Linked DNA regions of Homo sapiens: regions 2, 3 and 4 are each linked to region 1. The links come from fine-mapping of genetic effects on gene expression. A gene starts in region 1. Each other region holds a variant in brackets. All regions are shown on one strand. Distances are between the middles of the regions. Region 1 holds the start of SNX31 (sorting nexin 31). Region 2 overlaps SNX31 (sorting nexin 31). Region 3 overlaps SNX31 (sorting nexin 31). Region 4 overlaps SNX31 (sorting nexin 31).

What was found. PIP is the estimated chance that this variant, and not a neighbour inherited with it, causes the effect. A credible set is the group of variants that fine-mapping cannot tell apart.
Region 2: its variant is the best candidate, but not a certain one, in a credible set for the expression of SNX31 in subcutaneous fat (GTEx, PIP 0.76).
Region 3: its variant is the best candidate, but not a certain one, in a credible set for the expression of SNX31 in skeletal muscle (GTEx, PIP 0.60).
Region 4: its variant is the best candidate, but not a certain one, in a credible set for the expression of SNX31 in left ventricle (GTEx, PIP 0.61).

What each region holds. Positions count from the first base shown.
Region 1 is chr8:100,645,782-100,653,995 of GRCh38, reverse strand. It overlaps SNX31 (sorting nexin 31), which reads left to right and starts at 4,331. Exons shown (of 14, transcript NM_152628.4): 1 at 4,331-4,547; 2 at 4,648-4,722. The coding sequence starts at 4,482.
Region 2 is chr8:100,623,838-100,631,837 of GRCh38, reverse strand. It overlaps SNX31 (sorting nexin 31), which reads left to right. Exons shown (of 14, transcript NM_152628.4): 4 at 1,447-1,511. Among named protein-coding and RNA genes, the nearest start is that of SNX31, 22 kb to the left of the region's middle. The variant T/G (reference allele first, on the strand shown) is at 3,565.
Region 3 is chr8:100,567,686-100,575,899 of GRCh38, reverse strand. SNX31 (sorting nexin 31) reads left to right here. Exons shown (of 14, transcript NM_152628.4): 14 at 1,940-3,011. The coding sequence ends at 2,035. Among named protein-coding and RNA genes, the nearest start is that of ANKRD46, 12 kb to the right of the region's middle. The variant A/G (reference allele first, on the strand shown) is at 4,421.
Region 4 is chr8:100,608,427-100,616,426 of GRCh38, reverse strand. It overlaps SNX31 (sorting nexin 31), which reads left to right. Exons shown (of 14, transcript NM_152628.4): 6 at 3,342-3,432; 7 at 4,340-4,427; 8 at 7,864-7,933. Among named protein-coding and RNA genes, the nearest start is that of SNX31, 37 kb to the left of the region's middle. The variant T/C (reference allele first, on the strand shown) is at 4,032.

The sequences.
Region 1 (8,214 bases):
AAGTTCAGATGGTTGTTGCAAGCATTAAATGAGTTTGTGCATGTTACACAGAGTTATGTCTGGCCAAGAGTGAGTGCTGCATAGGGTTAGCCAGTCTTGTTACTACATTCAGGACACTGTCCCTCAGATTGCAGGACACTGTCTCCTTTCCTCTGAGCTGCTCTTCCTCTGTTCCATTCTCCACAGATGCGCACACGGCCAGGGGCTCAGCCCTCTGCTCTCTGGTATGAGGCTGACTGTGGCCACAGCATCAGTGTAGGTTTTCCTTATGGCTTCCATAACAAAGTGCCTCAAACTGGGTGGCTTACGACCACAGAAATGAATTCTCTCATAGTTCTGGAGGCTGGAAGTCTGAAATCAAAGTGTCGGCAGAGCCGTGCTCTCTCTGAAAGCTCTAGGGCTGACTCCTTCCTTGTTCTCCTGAGCTTCTGGTGGCCTGAGGCGCTTCTTGGCTTCTGGAAGCACAACTCCAGCTCTGCCTCGTCTTCATGTGGCCTTCTCCTCTGTGTCTCTGTATTTCCTTTTCTGTGCCTTATAAGGATACGCTAATTGGATGTGGAGCTGCCCTAATCCAGTAGGATCTCATCTTGAGCCTTACCTTATGATGTCTGCCAAGACCCTATTTCCAAATCAGGACACTATTCAACCAACTACAGTCAGTCTCTGAGTAGGTGTTCTGGACCAGAAAATCCTCCAGGAACCATGGACATTTTAGAACCACTGGTGTGATTTTGTAGTTCTCCTATGTATCGTATAATTTTATATATTTCCTCAAATTCCAAAGACCCTAGAGCACCCAACACAGACCAATACAAGTAAAGACAGAGAAAGATACACATCCCAAGCCATCCAGCCTTACCTTTCTGACTCACTCGTCTGAACCTCAAGAGAGTGAGGAGGACACAGGCAGATGAAGAAAAATACACAGGATGCGAAGACTTAACTCTGCATGCCCAACCTTCCAGCTCCTATCCCTTTCTGTGTTTGCTCAAAATAGGTGTCCACCAACCAGGAATCTCTTCCATGTTTGCTCAAGACCCTTTTTTTCATATGGCCACAGCCTTGACTGTTGGGGTGATGTGCGCAACACCTGGGCTATAAGAAAAGATGCAGCAAAGGAACCCATAATGCACATTGGCTGGGCCCCTCTGGTGTAGAGCACCAGACATTATGATCCATCTCACTGGCTCCCTCGTGGACCCTACTGCCCTCCCCATCCCAGAGGCCCAAGGGTGTGAAGGACTCAGGAGACGTGGAAAGTTCCAGAACAAGACAGAGCCATACCTCATTATCCATACCTCCAAAAGAGTGTGGGTACCAGATATCAAAGAGCCAAAAAGATTACACACCAAGTAGATGAGAGGCAACATGCAAATAATGCCTAAGGCTTTCAAAGTAGGAAATAGTGCATTTGTTCTGTAATACTATGGGCCATATTACAGAAATGGCCTCTTTTTAAAATCTGTAAATAAGCTTAGGCTCCATAAGGTTAGGGGACTGAGGCTGCCATGTCTAACAGCCTCACTGCAGCGCCTGGCTCATAAGAAGCACTCAATGAATACTCCCTGAATGAAGAAATGTTAAGCTTTTATTGAGTGCTGACCATGCACCAGGCACAGAGTAAATTAAAATACCCCTTGGAAACAATATAGGATTGATTCAGAAATTGAGCATCATAAATGTTTATTTAAAACTCCATCAAGAATTAAAAACCTGTGGGCCGGGCGCGGTGGCTCACACCTGTAATCCCACGACTTTGGGAGGCCGAGGCGGGTAGATCATGAGGTCAGGAGATCGAGACCATCCTGGCTAACACGGTGAAACCCCGTCTCTACTAAAAATACAAAAAATTAGCCGGGCATTGTGGCGTGTGCCTGTAATCCCAGCTACTCGGGAGGCCGAGGCAGGAGAATGGCATGAACCCGGGAGGTGGAGCTTGCAGTGAGCCGAGCTCACACCACTGCACTCCGGCCTGGGTGACTGAGCAAGACACTGTTTCAAAAAAAAAAAGAATTAAAAACTTGTAAAGGGTGCGCTTGTCAAGTCGTGGTACAGATTTCCCCAGGCACCCCTGAAAAGCAGCTTCACAGAGCACAGGCTCTAGAGGCAGATCACTTACTTCACATCCCCCATCTACTATTCACAAATTCTGCAATTCAGAGCAAGTTTCTTCATTGCCCTATGCTTCAGTTTCCCCATCTGTGAAATGAGAATAATATCAGTACCTACTTCAGGCAATTGTGAGAATTAAATGACTTCATTCATGTAAAGTGTTCAGAGCAGCGCCTCCAATCGCTGCTACCATTATTATACTTCTCTCTTGGTCATGTTTGAAGATTGTCTTGCACAGTGTGGAGTACACAGAAGGAGCTCAATAATGTTCACTGACTGAATGACTGAATAAGAGCTGACTGGCTACAGCAGAGGTCAGGGATGCAAGAGGACGGTGACTTGCACAGAGGCCTGTCCTGTTCCAGTTCAACTCCAGGGGGGCACTTAGTGAAAGGAAGGAAATGGCCCTGTTTGGACATGCCATGGGGTGAAACCAGGGTCCAGGCCATTCACTGGAGCAGGAAAGTTCCAGGAAAGCTGGGGCCACTTCTGGGTCTGACCAAAATGCTCTGCTTTGCCCTGAAGATCAGACCAGATTCCAGAGCTGCCGTGATCAGGCTTTGTCCCAAGAGGCACTCAGGAATACCCCTGGCCTTGGTATAGGGAGGCCTTCCAGATCAGAGATGGCCTATGGGCAGGGGAAATACCCTAAGGCCCATCTATCCTGGACTGAAAATTCCCTTGAAGTAAGTAGAGTTATTAACATGATTTCATAAGAAGGAACTGCAGCTTAAAGAGTGCACTAATTTCACACTTGTAATCTCAGCACTTTGGGAGGCCGAGGTGGACAGATCACCTGAGGTCAAGAGTTTGAGACCAGCCTGACCAACATGGAGAAACCCTGTCTCTACTAAAAATACAAAATTAGCCGGGTGTGGTGGCGTATGCCTGTAATCCCAGCTACTCAGGAGGCTGAGGCAGGAAAATCACTTGAACCCGGGAGGCAGAGGTTGTGGTGAGCTGAGATCGCACCATTGCACTCCAGCCTGGGCAACCAGAGCAAAACTCTGTCTCAAAACAAAAAAAAAAAAAACAAAAAAACACAAAAAACACTAATTTGCCCAAGGCCTCTCAACTAGAAGCCACTAAGCTGGGACATGAATTCCTGTTGCCATTCTCTTAACTACTATATGATACTGCTTCCCTCACTTAATGGCCCTAGCCTCAATTTCCTTTTCTATAAGACCAGAACTGTCAATGGCTCCTAGCCCACAGGTGTTTGTGAAAATTAAATGGCATAGCATATGTCAGGTCCTGGCACCCAGCAAGCACGCAGGAGGCACCGGTGTTTGGCAGGCGTCGCTTCTCCTTCCTTAGTCTCGGATTCCCGTTTCAGGCATGCAGCTCTTACCCCAGGGATGACTGGCATTTGAAAGGACTTTCAATGATCCTGATGAAATCCTGCAGTAAACGACTCAGACCCATGAAAAAAATGCCCTGTGAGCTTGGACAAGTTCCTCCACCCCCTGGGCCTGTTTTGTCCGTGGTAGGATGTCCTCTGTTTACCTGGAAGAGTTACGGGTAGATTAAAGGAGAGAGGGAAGAACGGAGCCAGCCCAGGCTTGCTACAGAACAGGCTGGTGAGAGCTGCAGCATCTCTGTGCTCTGTGATCACGGCAAGGTGGGAGGAATTCTAGTTTCATTTAACTAAAATAGAGAATTAGGAAGATTATTTTCCACAGCAACTAAAAATGAGAGACTGTTGAAAGAACTTGCACTGGGTAGTCCAGAGAACCAAGTGTTTATGTGAATGCACCTGTCTAAAAATGAGGGCTTCTCAGGGATCAAGAGAAACCCAAGCCATTTCCATTTGGGGGGGGCTTCTGGTATTTTAAGGGGAAAAAACAAGATTGAAAGAATAATACGAAAGCAAGGTTGCATATATTGCTGCATGTCTTGTGTTACATTTAACAAATGTCAGTACAAAAAAACTGACCAAACATAACTCTGCTAATCATAAGGCAGTTACTAGATCTATGTAATTACAGAAATCTTAATTAGTGCACTGCAGGCAGCGTTGGCAGGTAATGGGACACAAACTGTTTTCAAGCCCCTCACGGGCCTTCTTGGAGAAAATGCCAACAGTGGCCGATGTCCGGGGTGGGGGTGGCCGTGGATGCGCCCCAGCCCCAGGCGCCACCTATCCCGGGACCAGAGCGGCGGGGCTGGATGGGGCGGGGACTGGGAGGCGGCGCGGCCCGGCCCCGGCCCCACCTGTAGATGTCCCCGGCCGGCGAGAGCGGGCGCCGGGGTTCGCTCTGAGTCGCGTGGCAGGCCGCGCTGCGTCCACCGCTGCCGAGTTCAGAGCCGCGCACCGCCCGCCGCCGCAGGTCGGGTTCCCAGCGCTACTCCCAAGACACCGCTCAGCCATGAAGATGCATTTCTGTATCCCGGTGTCCCAGCAGCGGTCCGACGCGCTGGGGGGCCGCTACGTGGTGCGCCCAGGGCTGGGGTCAGGGTGGGCAGGGAGGGGGCCGGTGGCAATGCTCACTTATCCCTCGGCTCACCAGGGACGGGGTGTCTGTGTGTTTGCAGCTGTACTCCGTGCACCTGGACGGGTTCCTCTTCTGCAGGGTGCGCTACAGCCAGCTGCACGGTTGGAACGAACAGGTGAGCAGATTGGAGGCGGGTACGAGCCCATCCACTGAGACAGGTGGAGAAAGCTGTCCCCAAAGCGCTCTGTTCCTCTGACTCTGGCAAGACACTGGGCCTTTCACGGCCTCGGGCTTCCTATTGTGAAACAGGGTCCTGGTAAGGATGAACTGAATTGCTTGGCATACAGTTGGATGAATGCATGCTGCGGCTCCTGGTCGCCTACAGCTGTGAGATGAGGGAACCGGGCGCAGGTGATTCTTCCAAGCCCCTCGCAGTTGCAGCCGGGTGATCCCCGCTAGCGCCGCCTGGCAGGGCGCTGGGGCTATGCTGGGCCCCATTTCAGTGCCCGCTGTTCCCCAGGACAATGCTTCCCTCCAAAATTTGGAAACTGGGTCTAGATCAAGGCCTAGAGTCTTTGGAGTCTTGTACATGGGTATTTAATCTCCTTTGTCTCGAGAGTTTCTTAAGTTTGCCCCCTTTAAAAAGGTGTGTCTCTAGTTTTGTTTTTGAATGGCCATGAGGCTTCAAGTACTGGCAGGCTGGGAACCAGGGAACATGACTTACCAAGCTAGGATAGTTTCTCACCCTGCTGTCTTGACAGTATTTTCTCTGGGAGGCAGACTGATTTATTAGTCTGCTCTAATGGGTTTCATTGTTCTTATAAGGAGGTGTTATAAGTCTTCAAAATGGATTAGAGAAGTAAATGAAAGTTTAGAAATAAACTTTACACTCCTCCTCCACTCCCCCATGAATAGTGATTTTTGTTTTTTTGTTTTAGATTTTAGGTTATAAACAGCACATACCTAACATTAAAAACAAAAGTATAGGCCAGGCACCGTGGCTCATGCTTGTAATCCCAATACTTTGGGAGACTGAGGCAGGAGGATTACTTGAGTCCCAGAGTTTGAGACCAGCCTGGGCAACATAGCCGAGACCTTGTCTCTATTAAAAAAAAAAAAAAAAAAAGTGTAGAGAAAACTGAAAAAACTTTCCCAGAGGTAACAGCTGTTTTTGTTTGTTTGCTTGTTTTGAGAGAGTTTTTTCAGACAGTCTCTGGGTTTCTAGTGAGTTAGATACACCATGTTTCATTTAACCATCTTCTGTTGACCGACAGCTTAGTTTGTTTTTTCTGCTATTAAATTGTCACTGTAGCAAGCCTTCTTGCTCATACATCACAGTGCATTGGAAAAGTCCATTTTCAAGGTGTGATTAAGTATCTTTGGAGTCAACCAAGAACAGTTGTAATGTGGTTACTAGTTAATTTGAGTGGTCATCTTTGTATTACTAGTGCTGTGACCCAGTAGGTCCTTAGGAACGATTGTCAAATGATTGAATGAAGAATGGCATAGATTCAGACTTCTGGAAGATAAGAAGCTACTTGTGACTGAAACACATGGGGAATTGTGAGGACTGCAGAGGCAGGGATCTCAAAGGAAGAGAAAGGATGAGTGTCTTAGGCATTGGCAGGGGGAGGCAGGGTATCCTCTCCTACCCTCCTCTGTTTTCCTGCAGCTTGAGGTGGGGAAGGGGCAGGAGCAGAGCAGGAGGCAGCAAGAGAGCCTGTGACTGATCAACTGCGTCCTGGCTGATCACCTCACCTCTCCTCTGATCTTCAATTTTCTCATCAGAAATAATAAGCAAATGGGTCCTTATGGATGTCAGCCTCACAGTGTGCTTGTGAAGATTAGGGGCCAGCTGCTTGCAGAGCCTGGTACATAATATATGCTCAGCAAACATTTGTGGACTCAAGAGGCTTCAAGCACTCCTGAATCTGGCCCTCCTTACCCAATAGACTTGGGAAAATGCTTATTTTCAGGAAAACTCAGATGAACCAAATCCTAGCAGGTCCAGAAGCAGAGGCATAGAGTGAGTAAATTTTATTCTTGATCTTCTATTTGGTAAGACATGAAGTAGAAATTGTCTGTTATTTACTATTGGGGCCTTTAAATATTGAATTACCATGGCTCAGTGCCCTCAGTAGGACATACAATAGATTTTAATAAAATAGATTTTAATAAATATTTCATATTTATCCCAGATTTCTCAAAATAGTAAAATGGAAATTTCTTTGTCTAGTTTCCAACTTCCATATATCGCATATGAATATTTATCATTTTCCCCCTTTCTATACAAACTACTACATTTTTAAAGAAACTATTTAGATCTTAGATGGCTATTGGTATTTATAATCAATCTGAAACAATAACAAGTAGTTACTGTGTGCTGAGTTTGGTACCAAACACTTTACCTGTAATAGCTTAATTTTTATAATAGCCTTATGAGCTAGCATTAGAATTAGTCCAATTTAACAGGTGAAGCAGCTGAGGCACAATTTTCCTAAAGTCATATTGTTAATGTTGGAGGCAGGACTTGATTTCTAGAACCTGCTCTGACCTATTACATTAATGTGATTTCTTTCTAACGTTGATAAAATAAATCGTATCAGTAAAACAATGAGTCAAATGACTGAGTCCTAAACTAACATACTTTTACTGTATTTTGGAATCATGTAATGTAATAAAATTCCCCAACTTTATGGGTTCAGTGTAATGAATTTTGGTAAATGTATACAATTACCACCACCATGATCGAGGTTAAAATTTTTTTTTGCCTCACTCTAAAAGTCCCCTTGTCCTTGAAGGAAACCAAAATATTTTATCCCAAAATGTACTACTATGACATATTTCAAGATGGCTGTGTAGAAAGCTGGAAATATCAGAATAGCTGAAAAGCTGCCTTTTGTGGAGGAGATTTGCACCTGTAGAGAGAATCTGTATTGATGCAGCCAGGCTTTCTCTGAAGTCCTCTCTTGTTCAGATTTAGGAAAGAATCACAGAGAGTCTGACACCTTTAAAGGTCTGAAACAAATGTTTACCAACTGTTCTTTCTGAGAGCTGCTACCTGTGGGTTTCCTCTGTATACTAAGACCACTTTTGCTTGCCGGGTCTCTCCTCTTCTTCCCGTGACCTGTCTTGCCACCATAACCTGATTTGCCACCATAACCTGTTTTTGACCATGCCGCTTTTTTCTGTAATCTCAAGATGGTATAAAACCATCAACTATTTGGCCATTTCTTTGAGATCTTTTATTTTGTAAGACTCCCGCGCATGTTAGTAAATTTGTATGCCTTTCCTCCTATGAATCTGCCTTTTGTCAGGTGGTTTTTCAGTGAAGCTTCAGAGGATGAAGGGGAAGTTTACCCTTGGCCCCGATAGTCTTTTTGCTCTCAATCCCCTTCATTCAGCCCTGACCCCAGGCCTCCAACATCTACTCTCTGTCATGCGAGTTCCAGACACAGGATTTTGTTCCAGCAAGTCCCCAGTAAGGTCAGCAGTTCAATCATCATCATCATTCTCATTTTATAGGTAAAGAGTCTGAGGCCGGGCATGGTGATTCACACCTGCAATCCCAGCACTCTGGGAGGCCAAGGTGGGTGGACTGCCTGAGCTCGGGAGTTCAAGACCAGCCTGGGCAACATGGCAAAACCCTGTCTCTACCAAAAATACA
Region 2 (8,000 bases), 22 kb after region 1:
TTTGACTATATGCCCCATTGCAGAAAATAATGCAAGGGCTTCCCCTCCTCCACTCCGGGAATTACCCCTCAGAAAAGACAGAATGCTTTTTATAAATAGTTTCTCATGTTGCAGGGACTTTCTCTCTTCGTTTATTTTGGAAAACATGATGTCTTTTGGGAAAGGCACAGCCTGCAATGAAGTCAGTGATAGTTTTGAATGCTGGTAGAGGATGTTTGATAAAATTAGTAAAACAGGCCGGGTGTGGTGGCGCACTCCTGTAATCCCAAAAACTTGAGAGACTGAGGCAGGAGAATTGCTTGAACCTGGGAGGTGGAGGTTGCAGTGAGGTGAAATCACGCCATTGCACCCCAGCCTGGGTGACAGAGCAAGACTCCATCTCAAAAAAAAAAAAAAAAAAGTAAAACAGCAATGAAAACAGAAGGAAGAAAGAAATTTGGCAGCATTTAGTAAGTATGTAAGTGTAGCTGAAGCGCAGGATATAGGAGAGGATCTGTGGCAAGTGGGGGTAAACCAGGAGGAACCAGGCTGGGCCATACCTTGTGGGTTTGCAGTTCTCATGGGGGTGTGTCTGCCCCATCTGCTCTGCCCATATCTCCTGGCTATTTGTGTCAGGAGCTTTAAAACTAAGGGTAAAAATATTTTTGTTAATTATAGAAGAATGAAATATTTTAAATCTCTCTGACTGCCTTATCATTGCTTTTTTTTGGTAACATCTCGAGAACTCCTATCATTCAAAGGGGTGCTCTCGGCCGGGTGCTGTGGCTCACACCTGTAATCCCAGCATTTTGGGAGGCCAAGGCAGGCAGATCACCTGAGGTTGGGCATTTGAGACCAGCCTGGCCAACATGGTGAAACCCCATCTCTACTAAAAATACAAAAATTAGCCGGGCATGGTGGTGAGTGCCTGTAATCCCAGCTACTTCAGAGGCTGAGGCAAGAGAATCGTCTTAACCCAGGAGACGGACATTGCAGTGAGCCGAGCTCACGCCACTACACTCCAGCCTGGGCGACTGGGCGAGACTCCAAAGAGGTGCTCTCAGTTGATGTTTCTTGGTTGAATTAAATTTTCAAATTACCCTGTGTCTTGCTAGGCTGGGAGTCTAGATGCAGGTTTTAAGATCTTTCTGATTCTTCATATAAACTTCATTATCATCCTGGTAGGGCAGCAAAATGGATGTTCAGTAGTATGGGTTTGTATAAATAAAGTGAGATGCCTGGGAACACTGTCACCCTGGATGGGTGTCATGGGTTCCTGTTGTTAAGGCTGCCTATAGGAGGCAAGCTTTGGGGGTTTTCCTGTATTTGAGAGGTTTCAACATTTATCACTTCAGGGAGGAGACAGAGCACTGGCAAGGCATGGAGGGATCTCTGGAGGACATAGCAATTAATAGGCAGGGCCCAGCCCAGCCCATGCTAACCTGGCTCACCGTCCATGTTTTTCAGTAACCATGGACCCAAACGTGTTGAGAAGTGATGTCTTCGTTGAGTTTTTAAAACTGGCGCAGCTGGTAAGCTTGCTCTTCTTTAATGGGGCCATCATTCCTCTGCAGGACACTCTTCATGAACCAAGTGTGCAGGTACACACACATGTGTGCACTGGTCACAGCCCCACAGAGCCTGGACTTGGACAAAATATATTCATTTCAAGTCAATTGGGGGATGGTTCCTATTTTGTTCTTTTGGAGGTTTAGATTTTAGATGGAAAATGAAGTGTGTCACTTGACCTTTGGCTCATTTTATTAAGTAGATCCCTTTTTCTGTAGCCTAAGAATCATACATCTCAAAACAGGACATGAAGAAGAGGACCTTCAAGTACAGTACAAGAACTACAGCCTTTATCATTAAGGGTTCCCATAACATGTCTGTGACCCTGCTTCTGTAGCTGAGATTTCCAAATGGGCCACAGTGAAGACATCAGGAAAGCAGGCCATGCTGGCTATTCCTTGTATATTCTCTACTCCTACCTTTATTGTAAATGAATCATGGAGAAAATTCAACATGAACAGAATGACATACAGCAACTCCCTTTCCTTTGTTGGTCTAAAGAGTCATGGGTCACTTGCTCCCTAGGCTGAAACTGCTAAGTACGTTTGTTTAGCACAACACTCATTCTAATGACACATAAGGAAACATTGTTATGCCTGTATGTATGAGCTTGGCTGGAAAAGCTCTGAAAGAATTTAAGTTCCGCAGTAATATGATACTAGTTAACTGGATCCTTAGCCAGGGGAGGAATGATCAGATTTGCAAAAATGAGAACACATTTCATTCATTCATTTACTCATTTATAAAATAAAATCCCATTGGGTTCTCACAACAAATCTCATGTAAACAGGGGTTCAAATGTGTTGGAATATTTACTGGCCCAGTCAACCTGAGAAATGGCCCTAGAGCCTTCTGTTCTGTAGTGGTTCATATTTTCACAATTTCTTGATGGTTTATATATACACACACTTTCCTATTCTTTGAAAAGTTTGCTGTGGAAGTGGTGATGATAGTAAAATTCAAATAGCCAAGCGTATACAATGAAAAGTAACTTTTCTTCCCTTATGATCCCCCTCCTCAGTGACAACTGTTGTGTATAGTCTAATAGTTTATAGTGCTCTTTTGCTACACATTTCTGCACATATATAAGCATGCATATATATACATATATATGTACATGCACACATATATATACACATACATGCACACACACAATCATGTGTCACTTAAAAATGTGGATTCGTTCTGATAAATGCATCATTAGGCGATTTTGTCATTGTGTGAACACCACAAACCTAGATGGTAGAGCCTACTGCCCCTAGGCTACAAACCTGTATACTATGTTACTGTACTGCATACTGTAGACAATTGAAACACCTTGGTATTTGTGTATCTAAACATAGAAAAGGCACAGTAAAAATATGGTACTATCATTTTGTGGGACTACTGCCATATGTGCAGTTTGCTGTTGACCAAAATGTCATTAAGGGGTACATGACTACACACACACACACACACACACACACACACACACACCCATTTTATTTTACAAACAAGCGCACACTCAACACATTTTTTCAACTTGCTTTTTTAAAAAAATTTTATTATTATTATACTTTAAGTTTTAGGGTACATGTGCACAATATGCAGGTTTGTTACATATGTAGACATGTGCCATGTTGGTGTGCTGCACCCATTAACTCGTCATTTAGCATTAGGTATATATCCTAATGCTATCCCTCCCCCTTCCCCCCACCCCACAACAGTCCCCAGTGTGTGATGTTCCCCTTCCTGTGTCCATGTGTTCTCATTGTTCAATTCCCACCTATGAGTGAGAACATGCGGTGTTTGTTTTTTTGTCCTTGCGATAGTTTGCTGAGAATGATGGTTTCCAGCTTCATCCATGTCCCTACAAAGGATATGATCTCATCATTTTTTATGGCTGCATAGTATTCCATGGTATATATGTGCCACATTTTCTTAATCCAGTCTATCATTGTTGGACATTTGGGTTGGTTCCAAGTCTTTGCTATTATGAATAGTGCCGCAATAAACATATGTGTGTGTGTGTCTTTA[T/G]AGCAGCATGATTTATAATCCTTTGGGTATATACCCAGTAATGGGATGGCTGGGTCAAATGATATTTCTAGTTCTAGATCCCTGAGGAATCGCCACACTGACTCCCACAATGGTTGAACTAGTTTACAGTCCCACCAACAGTGTAAAAGTGTTCCTATTTTTCCACATCCCCTCCAGCACCTGTTGTTTCCTGACTTTTTAATGATTGCCATTCTAACTGGTGTGAAATGGTATCTCTTTGTGGTTTTGATTTGCATTTCTCTGATGGCCAGTGATGATGAGCATTTTTTCATGTGTTTTTTGGCTGCATAAATGTCTTCTTTTGAGAAGTGTCTGTTCATATCCTTTGCCCACTTTTTGATGGAGTTGTTTGTTTTTTTCTTGTAAATTTGTTTGAGTTCATTGTAGATTCTGGATATTAGCCCTTGCTTTTTAATGCCCGGGTGCTGTGGCTCACGTCTGTAATCCCAGCACTTTGGGAGGCTGAGGTGGGCGGATCACCTGAGGTCAGGAGTTTGAGACCAGCCTGGCCAATGTGGTGAAACCCCATCTCTGCAAAAATAAAAATTTAGCCGGTCGTGGTGGTGCATGCCTGCAATCCCAGCTACTTGGGAGGCTGAGGCAGAATTGCTTGAACCCAGGAGGTGGAGGTTACAGTGAGCTGAGATCATGCCACTGCAATCCAGACTAGGTGAAAGAGCAAGACTCTGTCTCGAAAAAAAAATTTTTTTAAATTGACGTTGCTCTTTTAGACCTATGTCTTGCAGATCATTCTATATCTGCACATGTAATCGTAAGTTGACTTTAGTTCAGTCGTCTTTTTGGGGTGCATTCTGGGTTTTGCTTTCCATCATTCATGGGATCATTCAATGTTGTTAAGCTTTGTTTTGTATATCTCTGTTTGTTTGTTTGTTTGTTTTTGAGATGGAGTTTTGCTCTTGTTGCCCAGGCTACAGTGCAATGGCATGATCTCGGCTCACCACAACTTCCACCTCCCAGTTTCAAGTGATTCTATTGCCTCAGCCTCCCAAGTAGCTGGGATTAAAGGCATGTGCCACCACGCCTGGCTAATTTTTGTATTTTTAGTAGAGACAGGATTTTACCATGTTGGTCAGGCTGGTCTTGAACTCCTGACCTTGTGATCTTCCCGCCTCAGCCTCCCAAAGTGCTGGGATTACAGACGTGAGCCACTGCGCCCAGCCAGTTTTGTGTATCTTATTTTCCTGATAATTTGAAAGGTTTTATACCTGATTTCATTTCCTTAATATTTTGCCTTTGTGACTTCATACAAAAGCCTTATACCTCTAGCTGTGTTTTTCAGTGCCTCTTTTTACTTTTTCTAACACAATTTTCACTTTTGTAATGGCTTTATTTTCCTCTTCCATTTCTTCCGTGAACTTTACCAGCTCACTTTTATATCCTTTTGTTATCTTATTTCTTGAGGCTTTTATCTATTCTTTGAGGTCTTCATTCAGAAACACCTTCTTTTTATTTTCATCTGCTTAATGATGTAATTCTTTTGGTATATGTTATTTGCCTTTCATTGGTCATGTTTCTTTCCTCCTTTCTTGCAGGATTTTTGCATAGATCCCTTGCCAGTTATCTTTAAGTCATCAATCAACTTTGAAACAGGCTGCTGTTGTGAGCTAGCTGTTTGCTGACACATAGTACTGGGGAGGGGGCCTGAGTTGAATTCATCGAATCTGTTGTATTTCCAGTTCTTGTTTCTTGTTTCTGAGCACTTTCTTATGAACATGCTACCCTAAGGCCTAATCAGACTGTCTAGCAGCAAAGCTTTAAACCCCAGCTCCTCATATCATGATCTAGCCTTCTAAATATTTTGATTGACTAAGATCAGCAGCCCCCGACCTGGTCTAGGGGTTAAGAGTTCAGGCTAAGTAGTGAGATGGCCTCAGTTCAAATTTTGGCTGCCCTACTTTTGATTTATATGACTTGGGTCAATTTACTTAGGCTTTTTGTACCTCAGTTTCCCCATCTGTAAAATGGGGAGAAGAGCTCCTGTCTCTTGGGGTTGCTTTGAGGATTAAATTAACTGATACCCTTAAAGCATATCATCCGGCACAATGTTAATAGATATGAGGTAGTCACTACCTTCACCTCCTGGGTTCAAGCGATTCTCCTGTCTCAGCCTCCTGAGTTGCTGGGACTACAGGCGCATGCCACCACACCCAGTTAATTTTTGTATTTTAGTAGAGATGGGGTTTCTCCATGTTGGTCAGGCTGGTCTTGAACTCCTGACCTCAGGTGATCTACCCATCTCGGCCTCCCAAACTGCTGGGATTATAGGTGTGAGCTACCATGCCTGGCCAAGATATAGGTTTTAAAAAGCAAAATCTTAATGCCAGTCCCTTTTCTTTCCCCAGCCATGCTGAGAGATTGCTTTTTGCAAAGATGGAGTGTCTGTACATCTCTTCAGCATCCCCTGCCACTAGGTGGTGTCCAGTGGGGCCCGGAGTAGCGCTCTCAGACAGGCTGAGCACCATGTGATTAACTGCTTTGAGGCAGCTTATGCGTTGCTTGAGTTCTGCAGCACTTTGAGACCTCTGATTCCCTCCTTCCTGACCAGGTTCAATTTTCAACGCACTTGGCAGCCCTTCTGAAAACCTCAGGCTCAGGGCTATTTGTAAGTTTCTTCAAGGATGCTTTCCTTTTCATTGTTTTCTGTTTGCTTCTAAAGAGAGGGCAGGACAGAGGTAACAGTCACTTCCCAGAACCTTAACACTTTTCAAAATATGTGCTCTTTTTGAGTTGAATTGAGTTGAATTTAACAACTGGAGAAATCTTTTAATTTTTCAAGGAGATCGGTGTGCTTTGTTGCTATTCTGCTCTGAGGCAGAGGAATGTCTAATAGCCATGGTGCGCATCCAAGAAAATCCATATGTGGACTCACCAGGCTCTAAACCTCCATCACATGCAATGATGGGCCGCTGTCATTTCTCTACAAGGGAAATGGAAAACATTCTTAAGAATGTTCCTCTGCCTCAGAGCAGAATAGCAACAAAGCACGTATTTTAAAACATTAAGGCAGCCCATGGTATTGGAGGATTTTGAGGTTTCTTTAAAATGAATGTATTTTTGTTAGTTTTCTAGTATGAATTGCATTTTTTCATTCCTGCTGCATTATAGATAAGTATGGCAGCTGGGCCAAACGTGGTGGCTCACACCTGTAATCCCAGAACTTTGGGGGGCTGAGGTGGGAGAATTACTTGAGGCCAGGAGTTGAAGACCAGCCTGGGCAACATAGTGAGACTCTGTCTCTACAAAAAAATAATAATAAGAGATATTTAGATGGGGGTAGTGGCACGTGTCTATAGCCCCCGCTACTCTGGAGGCTGAGGCAGGAGGATTGCTTGAGCCCAGAGCTTTGAGGCTACGGTGAGCTATGATCAGCCCACTGTACTCCAGCCTGGGAAACAGAGCAAGACCCTGACTTTAAAAAAAAAGAAAAAGGATAGCAGCTCATTTAATGTTTTGTTTTTTTATACAAGCCAATTCTACCAGGTTGACTTTTCCCCCCAGCTGGTTTTTGTATTGCGTTTACATTTCATTAATTTTGTGAATTATACATTAAAACATTCTAGTAAAATTCAAATATCACAAATAGAGCCAAATTGTTGTTTGATTTCCACTCTAAACTTGTTTGATCTGTTTTGTGCTTGCTTTGGTCTCATCACACCAAGATCTTTTGATGCCATCAATTCTCCTCTTTATTATATTGCTCTAAAATGTTTGTTTACTTACCAAAGCAAAATGTGCTTATAGTTAGAAAAATGAAATAGACATCATGGATGGAATAAAAGTTAAAAATCTAAAAATAGCAGTGAAATAGTGATTAAAAGGATTATAACACTCCCCTGTCCTCCAGAGGCAATGACTTTCAAATCTTACAGCTTTCTCTTCAGATACTTAAAAATATGGAGGTTAATTATATACATATATGACTATCTCTCATTCTTCGTTTTATTTTTTTCTAGATACAGGATCTCACTATGTTGCCCAGGACTCCATCTCCTGGGCTCAAGTGATCCTTCCTCTTCAGCTTCCCCAGGAGCTGGGATTACAGGTATATGCCATAGCACCCAGCTATTATTCTTCAATTTTTAGACCCTATCCACTGACTGTGATGGATGTGAGGATTTCAGCTTTCTTGTGTCACTTCTATTCTTCCTTTCTCCCCTAACTTTAATTTTAAAAAATTAAGTCCTGAGTCAACACCTTCCTCTTTCCTCCCCGCATCCCCCCACCTCCCCCCCAACTGGAGTTAAAACTGAATCACTTAACAGAAAAAAAAATGCTTAGTTGTCTCAAAACATATGACTAAACTCCTTCCGTACCTATAGCAGCCCTGAAGACAGAATTTTCCCCATAGTCAAGCACATCAGTTTCTTTCCCTTCGAGATGATCTACCCAAAGTC
Region 3 (8,214 bases), 78 kb after region 1:
GGAATCACCTGGGGAGCTCTAAAAACTAATGCTTGAGCCCCACCCTCAGAAATTTGGATTTAATTGGTCTGAGGGGCCTGGGCAATGGAATTTTTAAAAGCTCCCCAAGTGGTCCTATTATACAACCAGAATTGGAACCATTATCCTAGAACACCAGTTCTCAGTGTGTGGTCCCTGGACCAACAGCATCTGTATCACGTGGATCTTATTAGAAATTCAAATTCTCAGGCCCCAAACCTACTGGATCAGCAGCTCTGGGGGAAGGCCGCAGCAATCTCTTTAACACGCCCACCAGACAAATCTGATGCATGTTCAAGTTTGAGAGCCACTGTCCTAGGACAACAGATAACACTCAGCACAACTGTGATCAGTTCAGTTGTCCTCTCGGATGAGTGGTAACTCTAATACAGGCCAACCTATCTCATGCTGTGAGTAGGACCAGCAGGTCGGAAAGAGACCTAGTGTCCAACTATATTGAGTTTTAATTTATTTTGCAAACTGTTGTATAGACCTTATCCTGAGCCATGAACTGCTATAATTACTTTTTATGTATAACTCGTTTAATCCCAATAAACAACCAAAGCACTGTTATTATCCTTGGCTTACTGCACAGAGAACTGAAACACAGAAAGGTTAAGTCACTTGCTCAAGGTCACACAGTCAGTTAATATCAGAGCCAGTATTTGAACCCAAGCAGTCTTTATTTGTTGTTTAACAAATAAAATTAGTTTGTTGCTTTAACCACTTGGCAGTGAGGCCCCTCTATCAAAACAAATCCCTCGTAGAAAAAAAGTTGTAGCCCATCTGCCCACTGAGGGGCTCCACATTTTTTTTTTCACTTTCCACTTTCCATAACCGTGTCTTTGAGATTTCATAAGTACTGAAGGCAAATTACTCTTTAAAGATTTGCGGTAACCCTAACCTCTAAAATGTTTTAAAATAAGCATAACACTTTTTTTTTCTAATGAGACAGAGTCTCGCTCCCTTGCCCAGGCTGGAGTGCGGTGGTGCCATCTCGGCTCATTGCAACCTCCACCTCCCAGGTTCAAGCGATCCTCCTGCCTCAGCCTCCTGAGTAGCTGGGATTACAGGTGTGCACCACCACATCCGGCTAGTTTTTGTAGTTTTGGTAGAGATGGGGTTTCACCATGCTGGCCAGGCTGGTCTCGTACTCCTGGCCTCAAGTGATCCACCACCTCAGCCTCCCAACGTGCTGGGATTACAGGCGTGAGCCACTGTACACGGCCTCTTCTTTTTTTTTTTTTTTTTAGACGGAGTCTCACTCTGTTGCCAGGCTGAAGTGCAGTGGCACAATCTTGGCTCACTGAAACCTCTGCCTCCAGGGTTCAAGTGATTCCCCTGCCTCAGCCTCCCGAATAGCTCGGACCACAGGCGCCAGCCACCATGCCTAGCTAATTTTTTTGTATTTTATTAGAGATGGGGTTTCACCACGTTGGCCAGGGTGGTCTTGATCTCCTGAACTCGTGATCTGCCCGCCTTGGCCTCCCAAAGTGTTGGGATTACAGGCATGAGCCACTGCGCCTGGCCGCCCAGCCTCTTTTTTAAAGTTTGTATTTGTGTGGAATGTGCACTAAAGATTTTGGGCAAAGTTAAAAATTGAAAGTCGCATGGCTTTAAGAGGGGAAAGAGGCAAGACAGGTAGAGTTAAATGTTAACCTGGGTGATATCCCAGGGCCCTGAAAGATGCAGAGGACACATAAAACCAGTAGGCGGTGCTCTTCTCAGTCCTAACGAGTGTATTTACACTCACCCCAAAATAAAGCTTCTACAGAATAAAACTGTTTAAAATAACCATTGCTTATACAAATGTAAGCTTTCTGTTGCCCTTTCAATACTGTTTTAACCTCTGTGACTTTGTTATTGTTATGGAAATGATTTCCTTTCATTTACATTTCTGACCTCTCTGTTTACTTCACAGCAGAAAGACTATTCTAGTTTTCTATCAAGAAAAAGCAAGATTAAGATAGCTAAAGATGACTGCGTTTTTGGGAACATAAAGGAAGAAGATCTCTGAAGAAAGCTCTCATATTTTAAAATATCCTTGGAGGCTATCTCAAGACAGTGAAAGAACTTGGGGATTCAGGTGGGCTACCTACCATCAGTGGAGGAAATTTGACCTCTTCCCATTTTTTTGGCATTAACATGGACTGTATTCATCAAGGTATTATACCACAGCACTCTATGGAAATCTCAAGATTAGAAAAAAAAAAAGAACCAAGTTATAGAGTTAGTTTTTATTTTATTTTTGCACTTCGTCATGACAGTATAGAGTTTGTTTTTAATGTCTCATAAATGACAAGTGGCAAATTCAAATCAACTCATATAAAACTCATTCTATTTTTTCTCTAAAATAGATCTTTATATGGCTTCATGAAGTCTTTTATGTGTTTTGAATTTACATAAATGAAAGTCTCATAAAATATCATAAAGATATTTTGGATCGATTTCTAAAGATGTGACTCTTCAACGGAGGAGAATAGGGCTCTGAGAAATGGAATCACTGAAAAAGAAACCTGGGTTCTCTGATCTATCCACACAGAACTAGAGCAAGGAGGTGATGAAATACTGATCTCTTTCCTCACATAAGTCTGAGCCTACCAATATGGATGTACTCAAAGTGAAACGCTGCCCTGTTCTCTGCTTGACCATTGTTATAATTTTATTCTGTCCTTAGAGTACTGAAGGCAGTTCAATAATCAACATGCTATTTGGAATGTTTTAATTTGGAAAGCAATAAGGCTCTGCACCTGATATCAGATACCTTATAATTCTCTTAGCTTTAAAAATATGTATACTTTCTCACAAGGTTTTTCCTTATCTAGCTTCATTTCTCTCATGGTAATTAATGTAATTATGTATAGAATTAAGACCACAATAAGGGAGATGATCAGAGGAATCTGTATAGTGTAATTAGAAAAAGTACAATATTCTAATGTTCTAACTGGGTTGTATACCTAATTATATAATAAATACAAAATAATTCCAGTGAATATAAAATTTGTTGATTAAAATTCTGTGAATAATCTTTTTGAAATATAGAATCTATTAAAAATTCTATAATATTTATAAACATATGCCTATAGCTGTAACTCCTAGTACTGGAAGTTTTTATATTTAAATTTTAGGCTGTAGTAGGATATTTTTGCAGAGACTCACAAACATCTCAAATCATCCTAAGTGAATGTGTTAATGGACTAGGATCCTCTTCAGATTAAAATGGAAGTTTATCTACTATTTTGCCAATTTAAGAGTAGTCAAGCTCTATCTCTTTTTAATAGCAAACACCTACACAATGGAAGAGGCTATCAGAGAAAACAAGAATGCAACAAATTGTATTTGGAGTAAGAAGACACATAAATTGAACCATATATAATTGCTGTCTTTGTAGGCCAAAAATAGTTTTATGTTGACAATTTCATGTTTCAACTTGATATGTAAGAGAGTAATCCCAGACAACATGTGGTTGGTGTCAAAAGTGTGCTATGTGGGCTGGGCGTGGTGGCTTACTCCTGTAACCCCAGCACTTTGGGAGGCCAAGGCGGGACGATCACTTGAGCCCAGTAGTTCAAGACCAGCTTGGGTAACATAGTGAGACCCAATATCTATTAAACAACAACAACAACAGCGTAGTGTGGACCTGCATGTCAAAGGACGTCGGGGCCATCAGGAAAGCCCCAAGGGGAAGAGGGACTTTGAAGAAAGAGTAGAGCCATGTGAGCAAAGGTGGGGCACCCTAGAGAAAGGGAAGGATAGTTACAGATGGGAGATTAAATGTGGCATTGTAGAAAAATGAGTAAACTTGTTCTGTGCTAGCGAAGTTTTAGGTTAAGGGAGTAGTTAGGAGATAAAGCTAAGAAGTGGGATGGATCAGAAATATATGTATATCCTAATGCAGCATCTCTACAGTATATGTAGAGCAGTTTGTCCTTTGAGGATGCACAAAAACAGAAGCATTTTATTTAATAGTTTTTTTTCCAAACATTGAGATTATCATCAGTGTCAGAATATGAGAAGAAAAATACAATTGATGACATGCATTCCACAGTATATAAATATAACATGAAGAATAAAGGAACTAGGGTAGCACATGATAAAACAAAAATTGAAACAAAATTCAAAACTTATTTTGTAAAATGATACATTTCTTAGTAGTTATGTGAGAGAAGAAGGAGCTATTAGCCTTTTTGGGGGATTACTGGGCCTAGTTTTATCTAGGAATTTAGGAGTTTAAATCACTTCTGGATCAAAACACTTGATCATTGCGTAAAAAGTCAGAACTTCAGCTGCCAGAGTGAGCTCCCCAGCTGCAGGTGCTGGGAGAAGATGGCGAGTGAGACCCCCTCATCACTCCAGGAGGTGAGGACCTCACTCTGCGGTAGTCCCTGCCACCGGCACAGCC[A/G]CCCCAGCACTGGAGAAGCCATCAGCTGGTGCGTGGCTTTATCAGGTAGGTGACTGTTGATATCCTTCAGTAACTGCTAATCCTAAGGGGTGTGACATGGCTTTGCCAATTACCAGCCTATGCCTTTGTCCACTCCTCATATCCCTGCAAAAATGGTCCCCAGGCAACCACATTTTCTCCTGCAATGTCTATATCCACCATCACTTCTTTCCACTTCTAGACATTCATATGAGATTTTACTGCTGTTTATACTCCTAAAATAACTGGCATAAACAATTTGCCCACAGGCAAACACAACTGAGTTTGAAAATTTCACACAAATCATAATGAGAATAACTATTGGACAGAGGTGATTAAATTGTGGTCAGGCCCCACCGAGCCCCTTTGGGCCCTATGGAGGGAAGCATGTGCAGGCTTTGATTGAAGAGCTGACAGCAGAGAAACATGCTACAGGGAGTGGCAGTGCCCAGAAGAGTTCCCCAATAAAATGGAAATTGTTTCTAGGGGATCATGCCACCTGGGGAATGCAAGAAGGAGATATTCATGAGCAGGGAGCCTCTTTACCCCCAGGACTGACACAGACTGTAAGGTGCTGCTGGTTTCTATAGACACTTGGACAGTGCACTGTGAACAGCTCTTGATTGACCAATAAGGAGCTGCTCTGTTTACAGAAAGCATTTCCAAAGTGAATGGACAACATCCTCCTGTTTGGAAGGCTGCTGCTTTGATCAAAGAAGGTAAAAACAGATTAGCTGAGGGGGCTGAACTGCATGCTGTCTTTCTTACAGTAATGGAAGAACTGAACAGTAGTAGAAGCCTCCATGTTTGGGTTTTTACTGATTCGTGAGCAGTGACCAATGGCCTGGCCATACACTCAGGCAAGAGGACTATGGAAATCTGATCTATTAAAGGAATGTCCATATGGTGCATAGCCCTATAGAAATTTGAGGGGTGCATTAAAGGAGAATAAGTCAATGCCCATCAGAAGAACTTCCTCCCCAGGCTGAGAAGGTGACTGGAATAGACAAGCAGTTATCTCCGTGTCTGCCCTTGTGGTCATCACCTGGTCCATGAAGTGAGTGGATATAGGAATACTGCAGCAGTGCAGAGATGGGATGAATCTAAACATGTTCCTTTTGCATCTTTGCAGGCACAGAATGCCAATAAGAACTGTCCTGTTTGTCAGCAAGAGAGACAGAAACTTCCAGTGGCTATGGGGCAGATTGCCTGGTGGGAAGGCCCTGACCAGAGCTGGCAAGTGAAACTGATGCTGGTAGCCCTGGGGGGGCTACACATTGGTCTTGACAGGAATTAGACACTGACTGTGGACTGGGCTTTGCTTCCTTAGTGGAAGATGAAAATGCTCAGAGCACCATAAAAAAACAAGAACTGAAGACTTGCATGGATTTGTACAGAAAACTGTCATTTCTTCAGACCAAGGAACAATGTATAAGCCATAATATCCAACAATGGGCAGAGAGATACCTCCTTAGAGTAATAGTTTAGTAATAGAGAAGTAGAAGGAGTATAAAACATTGGTTGTCTAGAACAGGGAGATAAATTATGAAGGGCTGGCTTACACACCTTCACAGGTAGGTGCTAACACTCAACATGAATGGGACTAAAGGAGTGTCCCCACTAGATTTTTGTGTTTTCTTTGTTTGTTTTTTTTTTTTTTTTTTTGGTTGATTTGGGAAGAGGGATTGGGGAGGATGCTGATATGACTATGCAATTCTTGCCAAGGGAGGAGTACACTAGTATAATGACTATAATTTTCTCTCTCTTCCCCAAACAACCTCAATTTTTTTTTCTCTCCTCTACCTGATGCAATGATCCTAGGACCAGGGCTACAACTACAAGTGCTGGAAGCAAGGATGATTTCTAAGCAAGAAGCTGTAACTACATTTTTAAACTTTGTATCTGAATTCCTAAGGGGATAATGGGGGCGGGTTGTGCCTTCACCCCATCTAAGAAATTGGGATCAAGAGTGAATGCAGCTATGTTCTCTGGTGGCAAAACTAGCTCACTAGTTCTGCACCTGTGTAACCTTACCCTATCTGAATGGCGGTGGATTGAGGAGGAGCTACTTGCTAGACTAGTATTGCTGCCCACAATCTAGACCAGCACAGTGGCAATTCTAATGTCCCTTCCAAAGGTGAAAAAGTTTGAGTATTAATGGAGAGAAGGAGAAAAAGTAGCTGAGAGTAAAGAAAAAAAAAAGGTTATTAATGGAAGGAAATTCAATATTACATTAATACCTCAAAAGAGTCTCAGAGCAAAAGATGACATGATGTCTCAGCTCAGTTATTCCAGATGCCTCAAAGGGTGAGGCTAGGTGCCAAGACCACTCCTGTTTTTGGCACCTGATAAGATTGAGAGGAAACCTGCAAACCTGAGTGACTTTACTCTGGGAGACATTCATACACAATGATGGACTGGACTAATTATTAATGACTGTGTGGGATTCTAGTAATAAGGCGATATCTTTTGAATTGTATGTCCTTTTGTAAAAATTATTTTTCTGTAGAGACAAGGTCTTGCTATGTTGCCTAGGCTGGTCTCAAACTCCTGGTCTCAAGTGATCCTACTACCTCTGCCTCCGAAAGTGCTGGAATTACAGGTGTAAGCCACCATGCCTGGCCTGTATATTCTTTTGATGAAAGGGATCTGTGTTTGAAAACCAGGGGGTGGCCTGATAGTTTAGAGTAAACGTTTAGTAATAGAGAAGTAGAACAACTAATTAGAACATCGGTTGTCTAGAATGGGGAGATAAAATGAAGGGCTGGTTTACATGCCTTCACAAGTATGTGTTAACACTCAACATGAAGGGACTAAAGGACTGTCCCCATCAGTGGCTGGTGGTATTATGATACATATATATTGGTTTTCATCCATGGTTCCTGGCTCATAACTCTAAAATCCCATATATATATATATAAGCTAACATCCTCCCCAGAACTAGGTCTCAGTTTACATCAGCGTGTGGTCAGCATACAGCTTGCACACATCCCCACATGGACATTTAAGCAAATTTTACATTAAACATTTCAGTTAGAAATTACCTTAAGATTACCCTCAAAGTAAAATTGAGAAGAGCTTGGTGTTCCTAATTTGTGGAAAAAACAAGTAGGTGCCAACCTTTGGTGGTAAAACAGTGGCAAAATGATTCTAAAATACCAAACAAAGGAAAACTACAAAAGAAAACTCAGCAATAGAGGCAAGTCTACTTTCTCAGCTGCTGTTTTAGCTGTCCCTTGTCCTGCAGCGTGTATTCAGTGGCCCATGAGGGGAGTGGCTTGCGTGGACGCAGGACTGTGGAAGACGGGAGAGTTCTCTCCTTCCTGTCACCCATAGTCCAAGAAAAATGTCAAAAAAGTAGGTATGCTTTTCTGTCACACACAAAAAGACATGCTGAGTTAACTTAAAAAAAGTATGGCTAACCAACGATTTCTTAGAAGATGGCTTTTAAGCTTTGTAATTGTACTTTCTCCCCACTTTATTGAGGTATAATTACATTTTGCTCATAAGTTACTTTATAATAGCTAACAGTTGTATTCTTATGAAGTAAGTTGTCTGTACCACAATTTTAAGAAAAATTAGACAGCTACAGAAAAGTACATGATGTCATTGGTGGGTTTGGGTCTTTGGTCTAGCCCTAGCCCATGTATTTTTCTGTAGGGCAAAGTCTTTAGCTAACCAAATAGCTTTACTTGTGTGATAGCTTGAAAGAGGTTAGACATTCTGTTGATTTAAAGGTGCTGACCTTAGTGATTTTGCACTGCTCCTGCACCAAA
Region 4 (8,000 bases), 37 kb after region 1:
CCACAGACTGCATGTGTCTGGGGCCAGGCAGGTAGCTCTGGGGTACAGCTGCAGGATCAGATATAGAACAGGAGAGAGCACCTGCCTTCCCCAAAGACATCATCATTGACTTCTTTTTTTACACACTGGGCTTGCTGACCAAACTAGACATGCCTGCAGCTGAAGCCAGTGGTGGTGGTGATAGTTTGGGGTCTCCTATCTTCTGGGTTTAGGATGAGTCCTGGATTCAAATTACAGTCATGTGCCACATAATAATGACGTTTCGGTCAACATTGGACTGCATATACAATGGTGGTCCCATAAGTTTATGATACAATATTTTACTGTACTTTCTCTATGTCTAGATATGTTTTGGCCAGGCACTGTGGCTCACGCCTGTAATCCCAGCACTTTGGGAGGCCAAGGTGGGCGGATCACGAGGTCAGGAGATCGAGACCATTCTGGCTAACACAGTGAGACCACATCTCTACTGAAAAATACAAAAAAAAAATTAGCCGGGCGTGGTGGCGGGTGCCTGTAGTCCCAGCTACTCAGGAGGCTGAGGCAGGAGAATGGCGTGAACCCGGGAGGCGGAGCTTGCAGTGAGCCGAGATCGCGCCACTGCACTCCAGCCTGGGCGACAGAGCAAGACTCCGTCTCCAAAAATAATAATAATAATAACAATAGATATGTTTAGATACACCAATACTTACCAGCATGTTACAGTTGCCTAGAGTATTTAGTACAGTAACATGCCTACTATACTACTATAAACCTGGGCTAACAGGCTTGTAGCCTGGGAACAGCGGGCCATACCGTCTAGCCTAGGTGTATAGCAGGCAATACCATTTAGATTTGTGTAAGTTCACTTCGCAGTGTTCACACAACAACAAAATCGCCTAACGATGCATTTCTCAGAATGTATTCCTGTCATTAAGCAAAACACAGCTGCACAGTGTTGCTGTGTAAGGGCTGTGTGAATTTGGGTAAGTTACTTTACAGACAATGTCTAAGTAAATAATTATAGAAATAGTTCACGTTCCCGAGACAATGGCAGTTGTGTTTATTTATCATTATTGGTATTGGTATTGATCTTGATATTGGAGGGAGTGCTGAATACGTACTGAGTAGGGCAGTATCTCCAGGGTTCTGTGGTACCATCTGTTTTGTCCATTTCCCTTGAAACTAATAGCATACATTTGATGAAGTACATTTGCAGTCAGAAAAATGTGCTTCCTCTCTTCCAATCATGTTGGCTTGTGAGAAATTCAGACCCAAGACGTTGACATCATCAGATCAGGTAAGTTTAACTGGAGGTTCTACCCTAGAAGTGGTAGTTTCCATAACAGGTGAAGTGGTCACTTGGTCAGCCACAGGTGTGAATTTCCTTCCAGGAGCTGGGAAATTCTCTAGCTTGCATAAAACCATAATTTAAGTTTTATAATTAAAAATCGCCTTCTGCATCTTCTCCAGCACACTTGCTGCCATTCTCACTTTGCTTCCCCAGGTTTGCCTCACCCACAGCCTGCCTTTTACTTTTCAATGGTCTCTTTTTTGGTTGTTGTTTTGAAATGGAGTTTCACTCTTGTTGCCTAGGCTGGAATGCAATGGTACAATCTTGGCTCACTGCAACCTCTGCCTCCCAGGTTCAAGCGATTCTCCTTCCTCAGCTCCTGAGTAGCTGGGATTACAAGCACGTGCCACCATACCCAGCTAATTTTTGTATTTTTTTTTAAGTAGAGATGGGGTTTCACTATGTTGGCCAGGCTGGTTTTGAACTCCTGACCTTAGGTGATCAACCCGCCTCAGCCTTCCAAAGTGCTGGGATTACAGGCATGAGCCACCGTGCCGGGCCTCAATGGCCTCTTTAAGGGCCAGCAGCAAGCTAAAATCTAGGACTACTGTGGTGCTAGTGATGGCGTTCGTGTTTTGAATCATCATTAACATTTGCTAAGAGGAAAAATATTATTACGTATTTTTTTGCTGATGCTCACTCCTCTCAAAAGAAGGTGTTTATATTTATGTCTTTATGAATGCGAAAGGCTTCTTCATTCTCCTTTTGCCCCCATGCCTTTCCTCTGTCTGCCTTGGCATGTAAGCTTGTTGTTTTCCCTGAATTAGACAGAAAAGAAGGAAATCTAACTTGAGTGGACCTGGGTCAGGTTTACTCTGGGAAAGATGTCTTTACTATGCTGTTACCTACCACACACTTACCCACTGTGTTTGGCTTTTGGGTGTTTTGCAGCCCAAAACATGGGGGAAAGAGAGAGACAGAAAGAAGGGGAAGGGAATTGCTTTGAAAGTGGTGAAACTATTCCTCAGCTGCTCTTTATTTTCAAAGCTATGCTGAGAACACCCACTCATACCAGCCACCTAATCAGACTGCTTCCTGGGGGTAATTTATGTATCTCTGACAAGAGAAGGCCCCCTGTGAGCCTGGTATTTGTACAACTGCCACCTAGAGAACTGGGAGTCGTGGGTAAAGCAGCTCTGGAGGGCAGTGCTTGGAGGCCTCTCCTTGCGTGGTACAGAGGTGATTTAGTGAGTTAAGACCAGGAGTATAAAGAAATTACTCGAGAGCCCAGTGTTAAATAGGGGCTGGGCTGGGCAGATGGCAGGGAGGAAGCCTGTGGTCGTGTAGAATTTTCTGCTAAGGGAGCGTGAGTAGATGTCCAATGCTGTGAGGTGACACCCTGGTAGGCTGATGGTAAAAATGAAGCCACTGGCGTTGAAATGAAAGCTGTTTGATATAAGTCAAAGAGGAATGTGAAGGAAGGCAACCTGTGCCTGGCATCTGAGGTTTTCATTTTGCAAACATCCTAGTAAATTACAGTTGACCATCGCAGGAAACATCAAGGCGAAGCAGGCCTGGCGTGTCAAAGGTGGGCAGTAGCGCATGCACGTTTGTATGCCAGCCAAGCGGCGGGGAGTGATCCTTTTCCAAATAGCTGGTAATGCAGCCCACAGGAAGGTAAACTAGTGTGCAGGTTCCAGGGACAGACATCACAGAAGGACAGATGTTCATGGAACATGGCTGCTGCCCTCCAGGGGAAAATAAAGACCAAGACAATCCGGGAGTGAGTCCACATCTGAGATGGGATGACCAACCTCAACTTGGGGCCAGCCTCTGTCCATTGTGGTGGGGCTGATTTTTATTTTCTTTATTCTAATTTTTTTGTGTTTTAAAATTTTCTAAGATGGATACCATTTTTTGATTCCAAAAAGCTTTCTTTGAGTGTTCACTAACCCATGACAGCATTTTTTATTGATGTGTACCGGCCATTTCCAAGTCTGCATGTCACAGTTAGGATGCATGGTGGGCACACCTAACTTTTTCCCTTTCTGCTTGTTTCTGGTTAAAGGTGGTGTCACACAAAATTGGACTGTGTCGAGAGCTCTTGGGCTACTTCGGCCTCTTTCTCATTCGGTTTGGCAAGGAGGGCAAGCTCTCTGGTAAGAAGGAAGGAACAAATGAATCAGCTAGGAGATGGGGTGGACAGGTGTGAGCAGGGGCTCATAGGAGTCACAGCTGAGGGGCTGGCCACCCACTGGGCTGTGATCCCTACCACTGTTCTCAGTCACTGGGTTAAGGGTTTAGGGAATAGGAGGTTGCGTCCTTGTTAGGGGAGAGTGGGGGCAAACCGCTCATACCTTGGGTGGTCCAGTAACTGCACTTGTGTACCCCCAGCCCTAATCCTGACCCCCTCCCCTTTACCGCAGGCCCGGCCTGACCACTGACCACTCGCCTGCACCGTTTCCTGTGAATGGAGTGCTAGACTCCAGGGGTCAGGACGCCCCACCACAGCATCATTTCTCCTTGTTAAGGAATATTTGTGGATGGTATCAATGAGTTATTAGATTCTTTTTTCAAGTGTAATGAGATAGTGTAAGAAGACAGTCTGATTCTCCTATCTTTTGTTTTCTCTACAGTATGTTTCTAGATATTACAAGTTTTTTTTTTTTGTAAAATGGTATCAGTTATATTAAAGTAGTTTATAAATGTCCTCAAGAAGCCAGGGGAGGTGGTTTTGAGTTGGAAGTTAAGGGGCTTG[T/C]GTAGAGGGTTGGCTGCTAGGCCCTGCGGTGAGCTGCGAAGGCGCTGGATGTCTCCGGATCTATTTTTTCATCTATATCACAGTGTAAAACACCCCCCACTCAAGGGGCTGTTTTTTTTTGAGGATCAAATGATATTTATTTTTTGAATGAACTTCAGAAAGTTAAAATTACGTGTAAATACAGAGGATATTCTTACTGTGATTTTATTATTTCCAATAATAAGGTTTTATTTTCTCATTTGAAAGCTGCTATATATAAGCTGTCTGTGCTGTTTCAACCAGTAAGACCGGCTTTCTCCTTTCTCTAGTTGTGAAAAAATTGGCTGACTTTGAACTCCCTTATGTTAGTCTTGGAAGTTCTGAGGTGGAAAACTGTAAGGTTGGACTCCGAAAGTGGTAAGTAGGTTCTGAAAGTGACAGAGGCGTTTGACGACACTTCGCCATTGCCCATCAGGACTTACCAGAGTCCCGTCACATCCTGCTCATAGCCTGACAGCTGGAGACCAAGAACTTAGAGAAGGCTCTGAGAAAAGCAATGAAGGCCAGGTGCTGTGGCTTATGCCTATAATCCCAGTACCTTGGGAGACCAAGGCAAGATGATTGCTGGAGCCCAGGAGTTCAAGATCAGCCTGGGCAACATAGCAAGACCTCATCTCCACTAAAAATCAAAAAAATTAGCCAGATGTGGTGTTGTGCATCTGTGGTCCAGCTATTCAGGAGGCTGAGGCAGGAGACACACTTAAGCCCAGAAGATCGAGGCTGCAGTGAGCCAAGATTACACCACTGCACTGCAACCTGGGCAACAGTGCAAGACCCTGTCTCAAAAAGAAAAGAAAAGCAATGAAAATGAGAGAGGGTGAAATAAACTGGTTTCTGAATATTTGTCCTAAAGAATAGGATGTTGAGGGTGACTATCAGTAGTCTCAGGTAAATACTCAGGGCGGGGTGGGGTATGAAAATGAGGAGGGTAGCCATCTTTCTGCATCTCTACTGATAGGCGAACAAGAAAGTAAGACTTGAAAACCAGGGGCGGGGCCAGGGGACATGGATTAAAGCAGGTAATGGTGGGAAATGGCTGGCCTTGGGTTTGCTTTGCAATGCATCACTGGCTGCATTAATGGAGGGACTTTGTTGATGATTACAACCAGATCTGATTTATCCGTAGAAGTGTGGTATTCCCTGAAGGTGAAGGGTGGATTCAGCCAGGTTGCAGTGAATTTGAACTCTAAGTACTGGGCTTACACATGCCTAAAGGATGTGTACAGGGCCATCCATATTCCTAGATAGGTAGGACACAAGTATCCCTCTGCAGAAAATACTGTCATTTCCTCCAGTAACACAGGAGCCTGTGGAGAACAAAATATTATAGAAAATAGCGCTGAGCAGCAGGACCTTATGCACCCCCAGTCCTATAACCTGCAGCTCCCAGTGTTTATTACCGTGGCTGCAGGGGATTGCTCCTTAGGCTCGCTCTCTCCCAGCCCATTTATTCTGTTATCTGAGTACAGAAGTTTTAAAGAAAGGTATTTTGAAATCTAAGAATTCCCTTGACCTTGTGATGCCTTGCTCTAGAGCTCCAGTTTGTGGCTTTGAATTGTGGAAGGATATTCCCAGCAAGGCAGTTCATATACTGCTGTTCAGAAGTATCCTGAGGAATGGTCCAGATCTTGAGATGTGAAACCCTGAGAAGGGGAGAAGAACTCAGTTCCATCCAATGGTTTAGAGAACAGCTGTTCTGGAAGCTGCTTGCTGTAGTGAATGGCTGAGCACAGTTGTTCCTGGAATTACAGTATGTGAATCTAAGTTGCGCCTTGCTCAGGTCTTAGCTGCGTAAACCTAGCCAAGTCGTTCAAGCTCTCTAAGCCTCAGTTTCTTTATCTGTAAAATGGGAATAATAAAAATAGTTTATTGGATTATTATAAGGGTTATTGCAAGAGTTATGTAAAATAGTCCCATATGCTCAGTAAGTTTTGGTCATGTTTGTGACTGTTATATTGATGATGATGGTGATTATAGGAAGCAAAAAAAAAAAAAAAATCTTTGGGGCTTAGATTTTCACTCATGTGCGCTTCATAAAACCTGAGATCAAAGGAGAGATGATGATTCTGTTTCTTACCTTGAAGCTTGAATTAGAAATTAGGCATTGCCTATGTCTTTTTTAAATACGTAAACTCTAGATGATACGTGCAAGAGAAAACGTCTACCCCAAATTATTAGCCAGCATCTCAGATCTAGGCAGATTGCCTCTGTTGATGGGAACTGGGAAGAAAGGAGGTTCCACTTCTATTGTCAGAGCTGAGGATCAGGTCTCTGGAGGGGAGATTCTGGCATAGGCTCCTGCAGGTGCCTTGCCCTCTTTCCAGAGGGAAGTCTTGCCGCATGGGAGCTGGAAGGCTAGCTCCAAAAGCTGAGTGATTCCCAGCAGGTGAAGCCTCAGTGAGGCCTAAGTGGCGTCTTAAGGACTTCTCTGTCCTTAAGGAGAGATGCCTGGGTGCATCTCTCCAATGATGATGATATGGCTTCCTCCAGGCCACAGGGTACCTGTGCTGGCCTGTGGGAGCCCCAGTCTGGGATGGGTCTATTCTCTGCACACAGGGGCCTCTGGGATGTGTGGGTGCATAGTTACCTGGAATGTAAGTAGGGATGCTTCAGTTACTTCTCCCCACCCCAGAATGAAGTTGACCTTCAAGCACCATATTTATCCCTTTCCTGGTCTAAGCCAACCCCATTGGTCTATTCACCCTATTCTGAGCATAGCAACTCTGCTTGCCTCTGCCTTCTGGTTGGTAGAGATCAGCCATAGGTACCCTTTCCTGACAGTTTCAGTCCCTTCTTAACATGCTACTGTGCTTCTACAGTCATTAATTTCAGTTCCTCGTGATTCTGGATCTGACAGGCAGACACGGAGCCCCTGCTATTTGCAAATCACTCTGTCAAGATTCAGAGGGGCAACTCTGGATAGGCCCCTGGCCTTGGGGTTCTTCACAGATGGTGTCAAGAAAACTTAATCAGAGTGGCAATTGGAATAAACTCAGGGTGCAGAGGAAGCACAGTGGACAGGCGGCTAATACAGCCTTGGGGAGTAGGGACCAGAGGAGGGGGCACTGCATAAGGCTTGCAAAGAAAGGCCAATCAGTCAGGGGAGGAGACTGGTGAGGGCCTTGGTCTTCCAGGCAGGGAGAGAGGAGAGAAAACATGGTTGGAATGTAGCGTTGGTGGTGGGGTTGGTGAGAGATGGAACTGGAAATGAAAGTGGGGGTGGTCCCCGGAAGGGCCTTGAAAGTGAGTAGAATAAATATCTAACTCCAGGAACAATGAGAGTCTGAAAAGTTTCACAGGAAAGACCACTCTGGTTAGAATGTGGAGCATCAGATTAAGGGCACATGGCTGAGACAGAAAGCCTGGAAAGGAGGCTCCCAGAGCAGCTCAGGCAAGAGATGAGGGTGGCCCTGCTGCAGGGTGGTGAATATGGGGGTAGGTCTGTGTGGGGCAGTTGACTATGCCAGGTATTGTGCGGTGGAGAAAGGGAATCCGCATCTTGGTGGCCAAGAGTGAGGCTGAATGTGAACAGGGATGCAGACCATTCCCCTAAAGCTTTATTTTTGTGCCTCTTTACTCTTAGAGCCCTCCAGGCAAGAGCTTACGGTGTAAAGAAATTAGGAAACGAAAGAGGTGGAGGGGCAGAGTGAAAGCTGGGCAAGTGGAGGTGTGGCTTTGTTGGAAAAGGGGGCCCTGGTTCATAGGGTAGAGGGCCACCACTTTCCAAAGCACTTGCCAGGTGTGCCCATGGGCCATGTCACAGGAATGAATTTCACACTCCTGAATTTTGCAGGTATATGGCTCCATCCCTCGACTCCGTGCTGATGGACTGCAGGGTGGCGGTAGATTTGCTCTACATGCAGGTGAGGGTCACCAAGAGCTCAGACAGCACCGTAGATCATAGGCCATGTTGGCTTGGAGCCACTAAAC